Linked DNA regions of Homo sapiens. The gene in region 1 interacts genetically with each later gene. Each region holds a gene or a part of one and is shown on either strand. Other genes may lie near its edges.

Region 1 (5,093 bases):
CTAGCACTGTGCTTATTTTTACAGCTACAGTTTAATATAATTATCCACAGGAGAAATAATACTCAAAAATAATAAAGTGTAATGAGGCCTAAAAAATGCATGCTACTTTTCCCCCCTCATATATATATATATACACCCTCAACCTCTTGGGCTCAAGTGATCCTCCTGCCTCAGCCTCTCAAGTTGCTGGGACCACAGCAAGTGCAATCACACCCTGCTGATTTTCTTATTTTTTCTAGAGAAGGGGTCTTGCCATGTTGCCCAGGCTCTTCTTCATATTAAAAGCCATATAAAGTACATAATGAGGAGGACAGGTGATGAGACCTGCTCCACTCTGCTCTGGTTAGTACATACCTAGAGTTGTGCACTTTAGTAAGGGGACAGATATGCTACTGAAGGACATATTTAGCTCTCTGGTGAAGGAATACAAAAGTATTTCATGTGATAGGCAGCTCAAAGAACTGGATTGCCTGGATCACATTTCCACCAACTTCTGGCTTCATTAATTTCTATGCATACTCCATGTCTCAATTTAAAGGCAACTGTTCTAGAAAGCCTTTTTGAAAACAAATGCTAAGCCAAGGCATGTCATTCTATAATAATTTCTTTTTTGATCATAATCTTCCTTACTGGAGTAGTTTTGCAAGGGAAAATATGAGCTTTTTGTTCTTCTGAATCTATGTCACTCTACATAAAGTTTGGCTCAAAGTATGTTTTTAATAAGTATCAAATGAATGAATGAATCTCAACCAGACTTTAAGAAGCTGTATTTCTTTCTTTTTTTTTTTTTTTTTTTTTGAGACAGTCTCACTCTGTCACCCAGGCTGGAGTGCAGTGGCGTGATCTCGGCTCCCTTGCAAGCTCCGCCTCCTGGGTTCACGCCATTCTCCTGCCTCAGCCTCCCGAGTAGCTGGGACTACAGGCGCCCGCCACCAGGCCCAGCTCATTTTTTGTATCTTTTTAGTAGAGACAGGGTTTCACTGTGTTAGCCAGGATGGTCTCGATTTCCTGACCTTGTGATCTGCCCGCCTCAGCCTCCCAAAGTGCTGGGATTACAGGCGTGAGCCACCGCGCCCGACCTAGAAGCTGTATTTCTTTTGACTCAACTGTGACACTTGCCCAATAGGTCCTATGTTTTTCATATGATGGGTGCTTACTTACATTTATTGACATATTGAACAATTATTATGGAAAGGCTTAAGATGTCTGAGTTAAAATTTTCTTCCCTGAGGAGCAAGGAGAAGTCAAACAGTCATATCTCACTAAACTGTCCTTTGATTTAAAACAAACTTACCAGCTGAATCCTCCCACAGTCTTTCAATACAGACGATATGTGGTTGTAGGTTGGCCTCTGCAGGTTCCACATAGACGTAATCTCCAACATGGTACATGCTGTTTTTAAAGCTACAGTCCTGGCTGTATGTGCGATGTAAGCCTGAGAGGCCTGCAGCACCAGAGGAATCTTCACTCTTTTCAGCTTCTTAGGTAAAAAAATAAATAAATAAAGGAAAAAGGTACTCACCAAAGGGATGCTGAAGTCAGATGTAGGGTTCAAACAACACATACTAATAATACATTTAATACATTTAATTCCATTTGCAACATGCGAAGGCAGGAATCAGCAATAGTATGATCTTCACATTCCTAATAGCCTCTACTCAAAACTATCTTTGAATTACAACCATCATTAATTTAAATGAATATATAACTACACAAAGGATGTAGAGAATAAAAACATCACCTTACTAATATATGATCATATGGACATTTTGGATAATATCGAAAGGCACAAAGAAGTACGTATGTCGTTTCGAATCAAGTAATTCTAGAGATAATCTCTGATATACTTCATCCCCACCTTAATGCTTCTTAATGTGTTTCATTTCACTAAGTTATTACACGAATATGACACATTTAATGGAGTCTTAGAATTGAAGAAATATAGAATACATATATTCTACAATATACTATAAACTATATCTAGTATATATACTTAATATATCAAGAACACTAGCCCTGAGAGGAAATGCTTTTCAAAATGACTTTTATTTTTATTTATTTATTTTTTTCGAGACGGAGTTTCGCTCTTGTTGCCCAGGCTGGAGTGCAATGGCACAATCTCAGCTCACCACAACCTCTGCCTCCCAGGTTCAAGCAATTCTCCTGCCTCAGCCTCCCGAGTAGCTGGGATTACAGGCATGCACCACCACGCCTGGCTAATTTTGTATTTTTAGTAGAGATGGGGTTTCTCCATCTTGGTCAGGCTGGTCTCGATCTCTCGACCTGAGATCCGCCTGCCTCAGCCTCCCAAAATGCTGGGATTATAGGCGTGAGCCACCGCGCCCAGATGACTTTTATTTTTGTTAAGTAAAACTTATTAATAGTTCCAGTACAGGCCGGTAGCGGCAGCTCACGCCTGTAATCCCAGCACTTTGGGAGGCCGAGGCGGGCGGATCACTTGAGGTCAAGAAGAGTTCAAGGCCAGCCTGGCCAACATGGTGAAACCCCATCTCTACTAAAAATATTAAAAAATTAGCCAGCATGATGGCAGGTGCCTGTAGTCCCAGCTACTTGGGAGGTTGAGACAGAAGAATCGCTTAAACCTGGGAGGTGAATGTTGTAGTGAGCCAAGATCAGGCCACTGCACTCCAGCCTGGGTGACAGAGCAATACTCCATTTCAAAAGAAAAAAAAAAAAGTTCCAGTACAAGCTATCGTTTGCAAATATCACAGGGTTTTTATTGAGGATAAAGCTTTGCCCAAATCTTTGATTACTTCCTTAGGTTAATTTCCCATAAATGGAAGAGCTAATAATAAGCATTTTAAATGTTATTTATTTTATTCCTCCTGAAACATTAAATTTTCTTTTTCTTTTTTTAGACAGTCTCACTCTGTCACCCAGAGTCTTGAACTCCTGACCTCAAGTGATCTGCCCGCCTTAGCCTCCTAAAGTGCTGGGATTACAAGCGTGAGCCACCGTGCCTGGCTATCTAAATTTTAAAATAGTTTTTCTAGTTCTGTGAAGAATGTCATTGGTAATTTCATACGATTAGGACTGAATCTGTAAATTGCTTTGGGCAGTATGGCCATTTTAATAACATTGATTCTTCCTATCCATGAGCATGGAATGTTTTCCCATTTGCATCTGTCATCTCTGATTTCTTTGGGCAGTGAGTAATTCTCATTGTAGGGATCTTTCACCTCCCTGGTTAGCTGTATTTCCAGGTATTTTATTCTTTTTGTGGCAATTGTGAATGACAATGCGTTCCTGATCTAGCTCTTGGCTTGGCTGCTATTGGTGTATAAGAATGATAGTGATTTTTGTATACTGATTGTGTATCCTGACACTTTGCTGAAGTTTATCAGCTGAAGGAGCTTTTGGGCTGAGACTATGGGTTTATTAGATATAGAATTAAGTCATCTGCAAAGAGACGTAGTTTGACTTCCCTCTTCCTATTTGAATACCCTTTATTTCTCTCTCTTACCTGACTGCCCTGGCCAGGACTTCCAGTACTATGTTGAATAGGAGTGGTGGGAGACAGCATTCTTGTCTTGTGTCAGTTTTCAAAGGGAATGTTTCCAGCTTTTGGTTATTTCAGCATGACGTTGGGTGGCTTTGTAATAGATGGCTCTTATTATTTAGAAGTATGTTTCTTTAATACCTAGTTTATCTAGAGTTTTTAATATGTCAAAAAGCCTTTTCTACATCTATTGAGATAATGTAGTTTTTGTCTTTGTTTTTTTTTTTTTTTTTTTTTTTTTGAGACGGAGTCTTGCTCTTGTCTCCCAGGCTGGAGTGCAGTGGCATGATCTCGGCTCACTGCAACCCCCGCCTCCCAAGTTCAAGCAATTCTCCAGCTTCAGCCTCCTGAGTAGCTGAGATTACAGATGCCCACCACCATGCCCGGCTAATTTTTGTATTTTCAGTAGAGATGGGGTTTCACCATCTTGGCCAGGCTGGTCTTGAACTTCTCACCTCGTGATCCACCCGCCCCGGCCTCCCAAGCTGTTGGGATTACAGGCGTCAGCCACTGCGCCCGGCCTTTTTTTTTTTTTTTTTTTTTGACATAGTCTTGCTCTGATGCTCTGATGCCCAGGCTGGAATGCAGTGGCGCCATCTCGGCTCACTGCAACCTCTGCCTCCCAGGTTCAAGCAATTCTCCTGCCTCAGCCTCCCAAGTAGCTGGGATTACAGGTGCCCACGACCATGCCCGGCTAATTTTTGTATTTTTAGTAGAGATGGGGTTTCACCATCTTGGCCAGGCTGGTCTTGAACTCCTGACCTTGTGATCCACCCGCCTCAGCCTCCCAAGGTACTGGGATTACAGGTGTGAGCCACTGCACCAGGTTTTTTTTTTTTTTTTTTTTTTAAGACTTGAGATGGATTCTCGCTCTGTCGCCCAGGCTGGAGTGCAGTGGTGCGATCTTGGCTCACTGCAGTCTGCCTCCTGGGTTCAAGTGATTCTCCTGCCTCGGCCTCTCGAATAGCTAGGACTACAGGTGCGTGCCACCACACCTGGCTAATTTTTGTATTGTTTCTAGAGACAGGGTTTCACCATGTTGGTCAGGCTGGTCTCGAACTCCTGACCTCAGGTGATCCACCCACCTTGGCCTACCAAAGTGCTGGGATTACAGGCATGAGCCACCACACCTGGCTGTCTTTAGTTCTTTTTTATGTGATGAATCACATTTATTGATTTGCGTATGCTGAACCAACCTTGCATCCCAGGGATAAAGCCTACTTGACCATGGTGGATTAGCTATTTGATATACTGCTGGATTTGGTTTGCTAGTTATTTTCTTAAGGATTTCTGCATTAATAAACATCAAGGATACTGGCCTAGTTTTTTCTGTTATCTCTGCCAGGTTTTGGTATCAGGATGATGCTGGCCTCAAAGAATGAGTTGGGGAGGAGTCCTTTCTCCTCAGTTATTTGGAACAGTTTCAGTAGAAATGGTACCAGCTCTTCTTTGTACATCTGGTAGAATTTGGCTGTGAATTCACCTGGTCCTGGGCCTTTCTTGGTTGCTAGGCTATACATTACTAATTCAATCTCAGAGCTTGTTATTGGTCTGTTCAGGGATTCAAGTTCCT
Region 2 (4,296 bases), on another chromosome or scaffold:
CCCAGATTTTGAATATTTTGAGTAGGGATGCTCAGCCTGGACCTGCATCTCTCCAGAAGCACTACAGTACTTACAAGGTACTTACATATATTGTTTCATTTAGTCCTCACTAAGGACTATGTGAGATTGGCATTACTGTCCCCATTTTGCAGACTGTCCAGCTTACAGACTGACAAAGCCAATAATCAAATCCAAGCGGGTCTGCCCAAAGCCCCATGTCACACTGCTTAAAATTCAAGTCTGCACTTCAGTTCTTCGTTAGTCTCCTTTATGTCAGTAACTAAGGTTCAGATTAAATACTCGCTTTATTTTCAAAAGAAAACCATTCCTTCAAACAATTTTCTACCAATTTCTCTGCTGAAATGGTACTTATTTATAACACAGTACCTTAAAATGAGTCCATAAGGAACTGGAAAATGTTATTTTTTTTGAAGTTTTACACATTCAGTACACTTTGCATCAATAATAAAAGTATATTCATAAAAGTATACTCACGTATAGGATATTAAGAATCTAACACTGCTTATATTTAGGCATAAATGTGACATAATATTCCACTTATTTCACAAGCAATTACTATAACTTAATTCCAATAGTTATTCTAATACCTTCTTGTTCTTTCTAGAGTTTCGGGTTTGTTTTTTAAGTGGTTTCTCCCATTTTTCTCACTTTCAATTACATAAAACTGTATTCTACTTTCAGTCCAAATTTTGTGTTGCCTATATTAAATCCATTTCCCCAATATATCTAGACTGCTGCCAACTAGAGTTAATAAATTTTGAATGACTGCTCAGGATTTATTCCCTTTATTTTTATATTCTGTTATTTCCTTATACAATAGAGTATGAATGAAAACAAGTATCTACAAGACCAGTATTTCTTCAATTTTCACCTTGTGAAAGCTGGGTATTAAAATAAAAATAAATTAAACTCTTGGGCTGGGAACTCCCTGACCATATTTCTCTCACTGTGCTGGGTGTCTCTACGCCCCCTTTCAATCTTGAGTACATATAGTCAATAGGCACTGCATGCACTGGGGGAGCACCTGGCCCATCAAGGGCCTTTCCCAGAGGAAGTAATGAATAAAGAACAGATGAAGAGCTGAGTAGTGGTTCCTGACCTGCCAGCAAGAGAGGAGGGGCAGCATTTTAGATTTGAGTCATCTCCACTGGAGTCTGCCAGTAATCAGTTGTGTGACTTTAAGCATATCAATTAGAAACAGAAAGCTTGGCATCCCGAAAAGAAAACCATTCCTTCAATTTTCTACCAATTTCTCTGCTGAAATGGTACTTATTTGTAACACAGTACCTTAAAATGAGTCCGCAGGGAACTGGAAAATGTTATTTTTTTGAAGTTTTACACATTCAGTATACTTTGCATCAGTAATAAAAGTATATTAGTAAAAGTATACTCAAGTATAGGATATTACGAATTGAATTTCAGCAAGACTTGAATTTTACTCCTCATTATTTATCCAAAAAGGAAAAAAGATCCGAGGATTTGTAAGTGACGTGACCAAACTCCAAAGGCTGTTAGCGGTATCCGCATATTCAGGATGCAAATCACTCTCTAGTCAACTGCACTTGCTACTAAACTGTGATTCACTGGCTGTTAGTGGTATCCGCATATTCAGGATGCAACACCCTCTCTAGTCAACTGCTCTTTCCACTAAACTGTGATTCACTGGGTGCCGATTTCTTCATCTCAAGAGGTGATGATTACCCCCTTTGTAATACTACCTATCTCATAGGACTATGAAGACTAAAGAAAATAAGGTATACAAGAGCATTTAACAAATTTACCATACCACTTCATACTATTGTGGAGAGGGCCAAGAGACAAGAAATCTGGTAGCATTTAAAGTGCTAAGAGCACAAAATAGAAGTGTTATAAGGTCATCTCACCAGCCAGATCTATACTTTAGCTTGATTATACAATAAAAGCATTGACCTTGCCACTCTCCAAAACTATCAGCGCAAGCTACAATGCCCCCTCACACTGGCAATTTACCATGAGATTTCTAATCAATAATCAAAACATTGTATTGTATACTTCCTGCTCTGAACAACAGGTACCAAAATTTCAGCAGCCAGGTAGGTTGGAGTTCACAATCAGGCAGCCTAGAATTACACTCAGCCCACAAATATGTTTTGATCAACATAATTTTTAATGGCAAATTTTTAAACTAAATACATTAAAATCCACGACATGCAGTGGCTCACACCTGTAATCCCAACAATTTGGGAGGCCATGGCAGGAGTATCATTTGAAGGCAGGAGTTCAAGACCAGCCTAGGCAACATAGATAGACACCATCTCTACAAAATTTTTTTAAAAATTAGGCCGGGCGCAGTGGCTCACGCCTGTAGTCCCAGCACTTTGGGAGGCCAAGGCAGGTGGATCACCTGAGGTCGGGAGTTCGAGACCAGCCTGACCAACATGCAGAAACCCCGCCTCTACTAAAAATACAAAATTAGCCAGGCGTGGTGGCGCATACCTGTAATCCCAGCTACTCAGGAGGCTGAGGCAGGAGAATTGCTTGAACCCAGGAGGTGGAGGTTGCAGTGAGTCAAGATCGCGCCATTGCACTCCAGCCTGGGCAACAAGAGCGAAACTCCTTCCCACAAAAAAAATAAAAGCAACAACTAGCTAGTACATGGCCGGATGCAATGGCTCACCCCTGTAATCCCAGCACTTTGAGAGCCTGAAGCAGGCGGATCACTTGAGGTCAAGAGTTCAAGACCAGCCTGGCCAACACGGCAAAACCCTGTCTCTACTAAAAATACAAAAATTAGCTGGGCGTGGTGATGGGCACCTGTAGTCCCAGCTACTCAGGAGGCTGAGGCAAGAGAATCGCTTGAACCCGGGAGGCGGACATTGCAGTGAGCCAAGGTCATGCCACTGCACTCCAGCCTGGGCAACAAGAGCGAGACTTTGTCTCAAAAAAAGAAAAAAAAAAAAAACTAGCTACACATAGTGGCATGCGCCTGTAGTCCTAGCTATTGGGGAGGCAGAGGTGGGAGGATCACTTGAGCCCAGAATTCAAGGCTGTAGTGAGCTATTACCACGAAACTGCACTCTAGCCTGATAGGACGATACCCTGTCTCTAAAAGTTAAATAAATAAATAAGAATAAATTAAAATCCAGATTTCCAGCATCTTTTCCAAAAAGTGTCAAAAGATCCAAGGACACTGGGCCCACTTCCTCACATGGCAACAAGCAAGTGGAGCTGAGCAGCAACTGCTCCCTTTAGTTTGGGCCCGTGCTCTCCAGTTCATCAAGGCCCAGCCTACTCATCCTAGTACATAACAGGCATCGGACTTGGAGACCACTGAGGAAGATGCTCAAACAGAACAATAATAATAATTTAATGAAGATTTGTTTACTCTTTTTTGGCCAGTTTTTTGTGGCTCTATCACACATTAGCTCTGTGACTCTTAAGTAACATATTTAACCACTAAGCCTCTTAAATTTAACACAAGCTGAAATATGCTGACTTCTGAGTCAAAAAACTTCACAAAAACTTCGAACTCACAGAAACAAGTCAGGGCACCTCCCATAGGGAAAAAACGTAATGTGGCCACGAATGGTGGCTCACGCCTGTAATCCCAGCACTTTGAGAGCCCGAGGCAGGCAGATCACTTGAGGTCAGGAGTTTGAGACCAGCCTGGCCAACACAGCAAAACCCCGTTTCTACTAAAAACACAAAAATTGGCCAGGCGTGGTGGCACCTGCCTATAGTCCCAGCTACTTGGGAGGCTGAGGCAAGAGAATCTCTTGAACCCAGGAGGCAGAGGTTGCAGTCAGCCAAGATCATGCCACTGCACTCCACCCTGGGTGATAGAGCAAGACTGTCTCAAAAAAAAAAAAAAAAACAAGTAACGTGACAGAAGTCCTTGTCATATAATAATTTGACATCTACAACTGCGTCCGTAACAGTAAGGCCTATACATCAGAATAACAGATTGCCAGCAAATTATCTTAGGCTGAATCATATAAATCCACTCAACTGCAAAAGTTTCTGAAGTCTTCAGGTATAAGTCAATAAGCAAAACAAGCTCCCCCACCAAAAAAGAAAAACATTTAAAGTAACAGATAAGGCTATGAGCTCCTTTAGTGCAAAGGCCACTTCCATTCCTCGTGATCCCTCCTGTCTCACAATGACTGGCACACTGAAGCTACAGCTCAAGGGCAAGTTTCTCTCTGAAGCCTTTCCAGAGGGTCCGCATCCACATCACAAAGAACAAGCAACATGGTGTAGTAATGAAGAGTGCCGATCTCAGTGTTCAGCAGATAA
Region 3 (3,043 bases), on another chromosome or scaffold:
TCCCCAGGTATGGGCGTCCTCAGCGGCGGGGTCCCCGGGTGAAGGAGGAAGCTGCTGGTGCATGGGTGCCGGCTGCCCTCCACCCACAGGGCCCACTTTGGTGGTAGTGGCTGTGTCAGTCTTGCTCTGTCCTACAGGGCTGCCGGCAATGGGGGGGCCTGGCCCCGGCCCCTGTGAGGACCCCGCGGGTGCTGGGGTAAGAGGCTCTAGACCCTTCACCTGTCAGTCACCTGAGGGAGGCTGAGGCCAAGCCCCATCCCTCAGAATCAAGGCTTGCAAGCCCCCCTCACCTGCCCAGTCTCTGTCCACACCCCTCGGGCTGAAGACGGCCCTGACCAGGCCCTGGGCCTCAGCGACCACCCCTCCCCCTCCTGCCTGGACCCAGGGAGCAGGTGCAGGGGGCTCCGAGCCCCTGGTGACTGTCACCGTGCAGTGCGCCTTCACAGTGGCCCTGAGGGCACGAAGAGGAGCCGACCTGTCCAGCCTGCGGGCACTGCTGGGCCAAGCCCTCCCTCACCAGGCCCAGCTTGGGCAACTCAGGTGGGCCAGAAAGCCCCCGGTGGCTGCGGTGGAGCTGGGCACCGCCCCGACTGAGGCAGCTGCTGGAAGAGGGGGTGGCAGAGGTCACTGCCCTCCCTGCAGGCCCCACCCAGGAGGCCCCCTCTGAGGAATCTCTTTGCAGTTACCTAGCCCCAGGTGAGGACGGGCACTGGGTCCCCATCCCCGAGGAGGAGTCGCTGCAGAGGGCCTGGCAGGACGCAGCTGCCTGCCCCAGGGGGCTGCAGCTGCAGTGCAGGGTGAGCCAAGGGCGAGGCAGGGGCAGGGGCACCCTGAGGGGCGGTGGAGGCCCCTCCTCCCAGTGCCCGGCCCGACCTGCAGCCCACTCTCCTGCCTCAGGGAGCCGGGGGTCGGCCGGTCCTCTACCAGGTGGTGGCCCAGCACAGCTACTCCGCCCAGGGGCCAGAGGACCTGGGCTTCCGACAGGGGGACACGGTGGACGTCCTGTGTGAAGGTAGGGTGGGCATGGCCCTTCCCAGGCAGCACCGTGGTGCCCGGGGTGTGGGGGGCTTAGAGCTCGGCCTGTGCTGTGAGCAGACGTGGCACCCAGAGGCCACGCCTGGGTAACGCCCTGCAGAGCCCGATGTCCCCCTTGCAGTGGACCAGGCATGGCTGGAGGGCCACTGTGACGGCCGCATCGGCATCTTCCCCAAGTGCTTCGTGGTCCCCGCCGGCCCTCGGATGTCAGGAGCCCCCGGCCGCCTGCCCCGATCCCAGCAGGGAGATCAGCCCTAATGATGCTGTGTCCATGATGCTTTTAATAAAAACAACCCCCACTGCAGTCTCACCCTCCAAGTGGGTGTGGGAGGCCGGGCTGGCCCAGCAGAAGCCCCCAGGCCTGGACTCCATCCATCTGCTCAGACAACAGCAGGGAGAGCGGGGGTCCAGGTGGGGCAGCTCCCTCCCTTCCACCCCTCTCCGCCCCTCCTGAGGCCCCATCAGGAGCAGGACCCCTGTGCCTCCGTGGTCTTGCCCTGTTTGCAGGCAGCATGTGGCCCTGCAGTCACACAGCCTGGAGACACCACGAGTCCTGGCGGCCTGTGTGCAGAAAGGCACCTACGGCCCTGGAAGCCCAGTTGCGGAAGGAGGTTGGGGGAGGGACGCCGGGAGGGGAGGTCATGCAGCCTCTGTGGCCAGCACCACCCTGACGGTGCCCTGGAGGTGGCTGTCACCTGACCGTGGGCAGAGCCACAGAGCAAGGCCCCACGGCGCTCAGGGCTCAGGAAGCCTCCAGCATCCGGGACGCAGCTGCCTGTGGGCTCTGTGGGGGCCCACCTCCGCCTTCCCACTAGTCCTGCAACCAGAAGAGCTGGACCAAGGCAGCCCCCACCACCGCCACCAGGGCCAGCACCATGAACACCACTTTGGCCACCCAGACGCCGTAGCTCTCTGCCCGCCACTGAGCCGGCGCATCGGCCGGGATCATCCCGGTCAGGTTCAGCATGTAGCCCAGTGTCCAGCCAATGTCCACACCGCCCGCCTGCGGGACACACGGCTGCTCAGGGCTGCGGGGCAGCTACCCCAGGACCACGACCTGCCCACGCCCACGCCCCGCCCACGCCCAGGGGAGGCAGTCACCTGCTTTCGGAACTCGAGGCTGGGCCAGGTCTCCTCGCTGAACCCGTAGCCCTCGTGCAGGAGGGTGAGGATGTACAGGCCTGAGGCACAGTAGTCCCGCAGCCAGCGGTCCTGCCCAGGGTAGCTGGCCTCCACCTGGGGCCCAGGAGACCAAGAGGCGAGGTGAGGGCCCCTGATCCCCAGTCATGCGGGGACCGCCCCATCTGTCCTGGCCAACCTGAGCACGCAGACAACAAGAGGGTGCCGGGCAGTGGTAGAGAGCCCCTCCCTGGCCCCACCGACCAGTTACGTGGTGCGGGTTGCGGCCCCTTCTTGGCGGGCCAGAGGCTGGGCCCAGCTGCGGCCGTGGCCACAGCCTCCTACCTGGAGTGGCACGGCCTGGAGCTGTCCTCTGCCCTTGCCTCCCCCGGCCCTGCTGGCCGTGCTGCCCAGAATGAGGCTCCAGCATCCTGCCCGAGGCAGCCCTGTACCCTCAGGGACCCTCGCTGCAGCCAGGGAGCCCAGGGCCCACCCACCAGTTTCCAGGGCCTCTGGCAAAACTCCCAGATGGTGGCGTTGACCGTGCTCAGGGGCTGCCTGGAGGTGAGGTTCAGGAAGTGGAAGGTGTAGTAGAAGTTGGAGAAGGCCTGAGTGAGAGGGGAGGTGGCTGTGCCTTCGCTGTGGCCACGCTGGGCCAGATCCACCCCACCCGGGCTCCCAGAGCCCCTAAGAGCCAGCCTGGGCCCCTCCTGGGCCTGCTGGAGTCAGACAGGCACCTGAGGCCTCACAAGGAAGCCCGGACCCCTGGTGGGGGCAGTGTAGGTGCTCACATAGAACTGGCCCCGCAGCGGGGGCTGGTAGACCCCGTCAAAGGCGCAGTCCTCCTGGCCCTGGCAGCTGGAGAAGTTGAAAAGTTCCCGGATGGCTG
Region 4 (4,296 bases), on another chromosome or scaffold:
ATGAAGATACTTTAACTTCCCTTGGAAATTCATTGCCTTAAAAAAGCAACAACAACAAAAAAGTTCATTAAAATTAACAATATAAAATAGTGCCTTTTTAAAAGGCTCCATTATGGCTGCCTCTAGGGTTCTTGATAATTCCATAAATATTCCTGAAGCTGAGAACTGTTAGTTTCCTTCACTCCTCTCTCCATGGGACGCCCATTAAATCTATCTCAAAGAGTAATATGAAAAATATTCTAAAGGGATAAGTGAACCACTCCTTGTTCCTAATGGTCATAACATGAAAACCTATATCATTTTCCAAGCTTGCCATTACCCTATCATTTTCACCTCACACAGCTCCTTGCACACCAGGCAATCAATATATCCTGAATGGTGATAAAGTCCTAAAGTAAACATTCATTTTCAAGCATACATGAACTATATCACAGCTCATAGCATACTGCATAGTTCATAATCTTTTCTATAGAGGCAAAATATAATTTTATTAAGACACTAAAATGAATCATCATGAAAACATATAAAGAATGCAGAGCCCTACTGAGTAAAGATATGGAAGAAATTTAGAAGACAGGGAAAACAAAGGCACTTAAACATGAACATGATATATTTAATTGCTTAAAACAATATCAACCAGTCCAAGGGATGGTTCTGACATCAAAATAATAGCAGCACAAGGAGGAAAAGGCCCTCCTGCACACAGATATTCCACCTCAGACATACACTCACATGTCATTTAACAAAAGGGGCATGTTCTGTGAAATGTGTCCTTAGGCAATTTCATTATCCTGTGAACATCAGAGGGTAGGTTCACAAACCTAGATGGTATAGCTTACTACGCATCTAAGCTATACAGTATAGCCTTTTGTTCCTAGGCTACAAACCTGTACAGCATGCTATCGTACTGAATACTTAAAGCAATTGTAACATGATGGTAAGTATTTGTGTATCTAAACATAGAAAATATACAGTAAAAATACAGTATAAAAGACAAAAAATGGTATACCTGTATAAGAGCACTTATTGTAAACAAGGTAGGCAGGACTGAAAGTTGCTTTGGTTTAGTCAGTGAGTGAGTGGTGAGTGAATGTGAAGGCCTGAGACATTACCGTACACTACTATAGAGTTTATAAACACTATACACTTAGGCTACGCTGAATTTATAAAAAATATTTTCCTTTTGGCCAGGTGCAGTGGCTTATGCCTGTAATCCCAGCACAGTTTACTGTAACATTTTTACTTCATAAACTTTTGCATTTTTAACTTTTGACTCTTCTGTAATAACACTTAAACACAGTGTACAGCCATACAAAAACATTTTCTTTCTTTATATCCTTATTCTATAAGCTTTCTTCTATTTTTTAATTTTTAATTTTTTTACTTTTTAAACTTTTTTTGTTAAAAACTAAGACACAAACCCACACATTAGCTTAGGTCTGTACAGGGTGAGGATCATTAATGATCCTATCTTCCACCTCTACATCTTGTCCCACTGGAAGGTCTGCGGGGGCAATAACATGCATGGAGCTGTCATCTCCTGTGATAACAATGCCTTCTTTTGGAATATTTCCTGAAGGACCTGCCTGAGCCTGTTTTACAGTTAACCTTATTCTAAAATAATGATTAAAATAAAATAATTAAAAGTATAATACATTTAAAAATAAAGTAAAATAATGATTAATAGTAAATACATAGTGATTTATTATTGTTTTATTTTCAAGTATTATGTATCATATATAATTGTATGTGCTATACTTTTTATATGACTGGCAACACAGGTTTGCTTCCATCAGCATCACCATCAACATGTGAGCAATGCTATGACATCATTAAGTGATAGGGATTTTTCGGCTCCATTATGATCTCATGGGACTACCATCATATACATGGTCTGTTATTGACCAAAGCATCATTATGCAGGACATGACTCTACATACTAATTGTTCATGAGCAATAACACTGGGAAAACTGTCTCAAAGCATAATTCTAATTCTGGGTCAGCAAAATCCTCTTCAGAAATAAACACATAAACAAAAATCATTGCTTGGTAATGTTAATTTAAGATTTGATTATCTGTTTCAAATTCCTTGTTATTCACAAAAAGAATATACAATATACTTTGTATTTTCTTCTCCTGTACTTGGTAACATGAGCTAAGGATACAATGAGATAACAGACAAGTCCACTCTGAGGAATCCTAAGCTGTTCCCTACAGTCAACTCCTATGCAGGTGTTCAGACTTTGTAACAAGAAAACAGCATCTCCTATCAAATGATGATTCCACAATCATGAATATACAATCGTTTTTCTATGTGGCAGTTATTTGAGACATATGGAAAGGCCATAATTTCTCTGTCTAGCAGGCATTCAATCCCAAGATGGTAAGCATCCTCCTATTAAAAAAGGGCTACATAATTCTCTCATACCTTAAAAATCCTAAAATAGTCAAAATACAAGGCTTCGTGTTATTTCACTCAATTTTTGTTACTATATCCTAAAGAACAGTTTTCTGAGTTATAGAAGATAGTCAAAATCAGAAATAATTACTTTAAAATGTTACTTTCCTTTATCAAATTATTTGGTAGCAGATTTTTAAAGCTGAAATCAAAGATAACCAAAGAAAATTGGCTTGTTTTTTCTATAACTTAATGTTAAACTAAATTTGGGCTGAAGATGCCTCTGCTCCTTAAGTCCTTACCAAGGAATTGCAACTTCATTTACTATATAAGCTAACGGAAAGCCTAACAGTAGAATTAAACTTTTGTAACCAAATAGCTGAGTCTCAGTCAGTCACAGGTGGCCAACTAATCAGATCATCTTCAAATAAGGCAAATCCCAAGCTGTAATCAATCAAGCCATTTCTGTACCTCACTTGCATTTTCTGTTCATAAATGCTCCAGCCCATGTTTTTAAGTGAGCTCTCTGAAGCTCTCTGGTTCTGAGGGTTGCCTGATTTGGGAATAGTTCTCTGCTGAATTATATTTTGCTAAATTAAATTTGCCTCAAGCTTTTATTGTAACAATAGTAAAAGCCAGTATCATAAAATTTTGTACCTTACCAGAAAACCAGATGAATTATCCAGCAGACACCTTAGACGACATATGAAGCACCTCTCCATTAAAGGAGAGTTTTCTGGAGGAATCTGGTCTGGGTTATAACAGACTACTGTCTGGGGGAGACCAGTGGCTTCTGTAGAAATAAAGGCAAAACAAAATTTACTTTCCATTTTGCTGTAAAATTAAGCACTTGAATAGGTAAAATTTGTATTAGTTTCTAAACTGGAGTCTGTGTTCTGAATACAAAAAAATCATTTTCAAAAGAGCTAATGACAAGAAACTAAAAGTTTATTAAATATCACTTTTATCAGATAGAACTTGCATAATTTTTTAAATTTTTATTGAGCTATCACTGTCAACAATTTTCATATTTTCTAATGCATTTTTGTTTTCTTAACACTTTAACAAATTTCCAAAAACATTTTTTGCATTGAGAAAAGCATTTTTATACTTGCATATGCTAGCTTACTTTTTTCTTTGGTGCATTTTAAACACAATAATTTACATGCACTCAGGTATCAACCTTGTACCTTCCTTCCATCTTTCATGAAGGTACTACTTATTTTTATAAAATACATTACTGACTATGGCAATACTCTGTTGCCTGAAACTCATTAAATGGCTCTCATTTGCCAAAATATTCCTTAGCTCATCAGGCTCTTTGTGACCTAGCTGTGGCCTATGATTGCAGACTTTACATCTTTCCACTACTTCCCTATCATGGAGTTCTATGACCCTACAGGTTCCCAGCCTCCTTTCACAGACTCATATTTAAAAACTACCAACACTATTTTTTGTACCATCAATTCTTACCTTCAATTCCTTGTCCAGACTCTGTACACTGAGAAGGATTTAATGCCCAGTGTAGCTGACGCTGAAATTCAGCTCGGTCTTCGGTATGGATAAGTTCATATACACTCTGATGTATGACATCAGACTAAAGAAAAAAGATACAAGGAATACAACAAAAGGACTGATTAAAAAATATGGCTAAATTAATTTTAAAGCCTATTTAGATTAGTGGGTGCTTGCTAGTGGTGATGAATACGAATTGAATGATTCCTAAAATTCCCTAGTCACCTAAGATAGAACCTAAGGTAGAAAAAGCTAAAGAGACTGGCACTACAACAGATAAGCCAAAAGTTACTTGTCATCAGTTCCCAACATGAATGCTCTTGCTCAAATAAGTCACATCCCCATTCCTTAAATGCAACATATTAAAATCTGTTTATGTTCC

The links. A genetic interaction does not mean that the proteins touch.
Region 2: changes in PBRM1 (region 1) and MAPKAP1 together harm fitness more than expected from each alone (negative genetic interaction), as found in Homo sapiens cells (one large-scale study listed by BioGRID).
Region 3: changes in PBRM1 (region 1) and ENTPD8 together harm fitness more than expected from each alone (negative genetic interaction), as found in Homo sapiens cells (one large-scale study listed by BioGRID).
Region 4: changes in PBRM1 (region 1) and AHR together harm fitness more than expected from each alone (negative genetic interaction), as found in Homo sapiens cells (one large-scale study listed by BioGRID).

What each region holds. Positions count from the first base shown.
Region 1 is NC_000003.12:52,587,776-52,592,868, forward strand, and holds part of PBRM1 (protein polybromo-1), read right to left. Parts: intron 1,481-5,093; coding exon 1,295-1,480; intron 1-1,294. UniProt on the Homo sapiens protein: Involved in transcriptional activation and repression of select genes by chromatin remodeling (alteration of DNA-nucleosome topology). Required for the stability of the SWI/SNF chromatin remodeling complex SWI/SNF-B (PBAF).
Region 2 is NC_000009.12:125,699,913-125,704,208, forward strand, and holds part of MAPKAP1 (target of rapamycin complex 2 subunit MAPKAP1), read right to left. Parts: intron 1-4,296. UniProt on the Homo sapiens protein: Component of the mechanistic target of rapamycin complex 2 (mTORC2), which transduces signals from growth factors to pathways involved in proliferation, cytoskeletal organization, lipogenesis and anabolic output.
Region 3 is NC_000009.12:137,433,068-137,436,110, forward strand, and holds the end of ENTPD8 (ectonucleoside triphosphate diphosphohydrolase 8), read right to left. Parts: coding exon 2,946-3,043; intron 2,763-2,945; coding exon 2,652-2,762; intron 2,272-2,651; coding exon 2,137-2,271; intron 2,039-2,136; coding exon 1,847-2,038; 3' UTR 1,297-1,846; downstream 1-1,296. Other genes in the region: NOXA1 (NADPH oxidase activator 1), read left to right, coding at 1-7, 138-196, 386-540, 683-797, 898-1,012, 1,136-1,293. UniProt on the Homo sapiens protein: Canalicular ectonucleoside NTPDase responsible for the main hepatic NTPDase activity. Ectonucleoside NTPDases catalyze the hydrolysis of gamma- and beta-phosphate residues of nucleotides, playing a central role in concentration of extracellular nucleotides.
Region 4 is NC_000007.14:17,329,652-17,333,947, reverse strand, and holds part of AHR (aryl hydrocarbon receptor), read right to left. Parts: intron 3,997-4,296; coding exon 3,873-3,996; intron 3,193-3,872; coding exon 3,062-3,192; intron 37-3,061; coding exon 1-36. UniProt on the Homo sapiens protein: Ligand-activated transcription factor that enables cells to adapt to changing conditions by sensing compounds from the environment, diet, microbiome and cellular metabolism, and which plays important roles in development, immunity and cancer.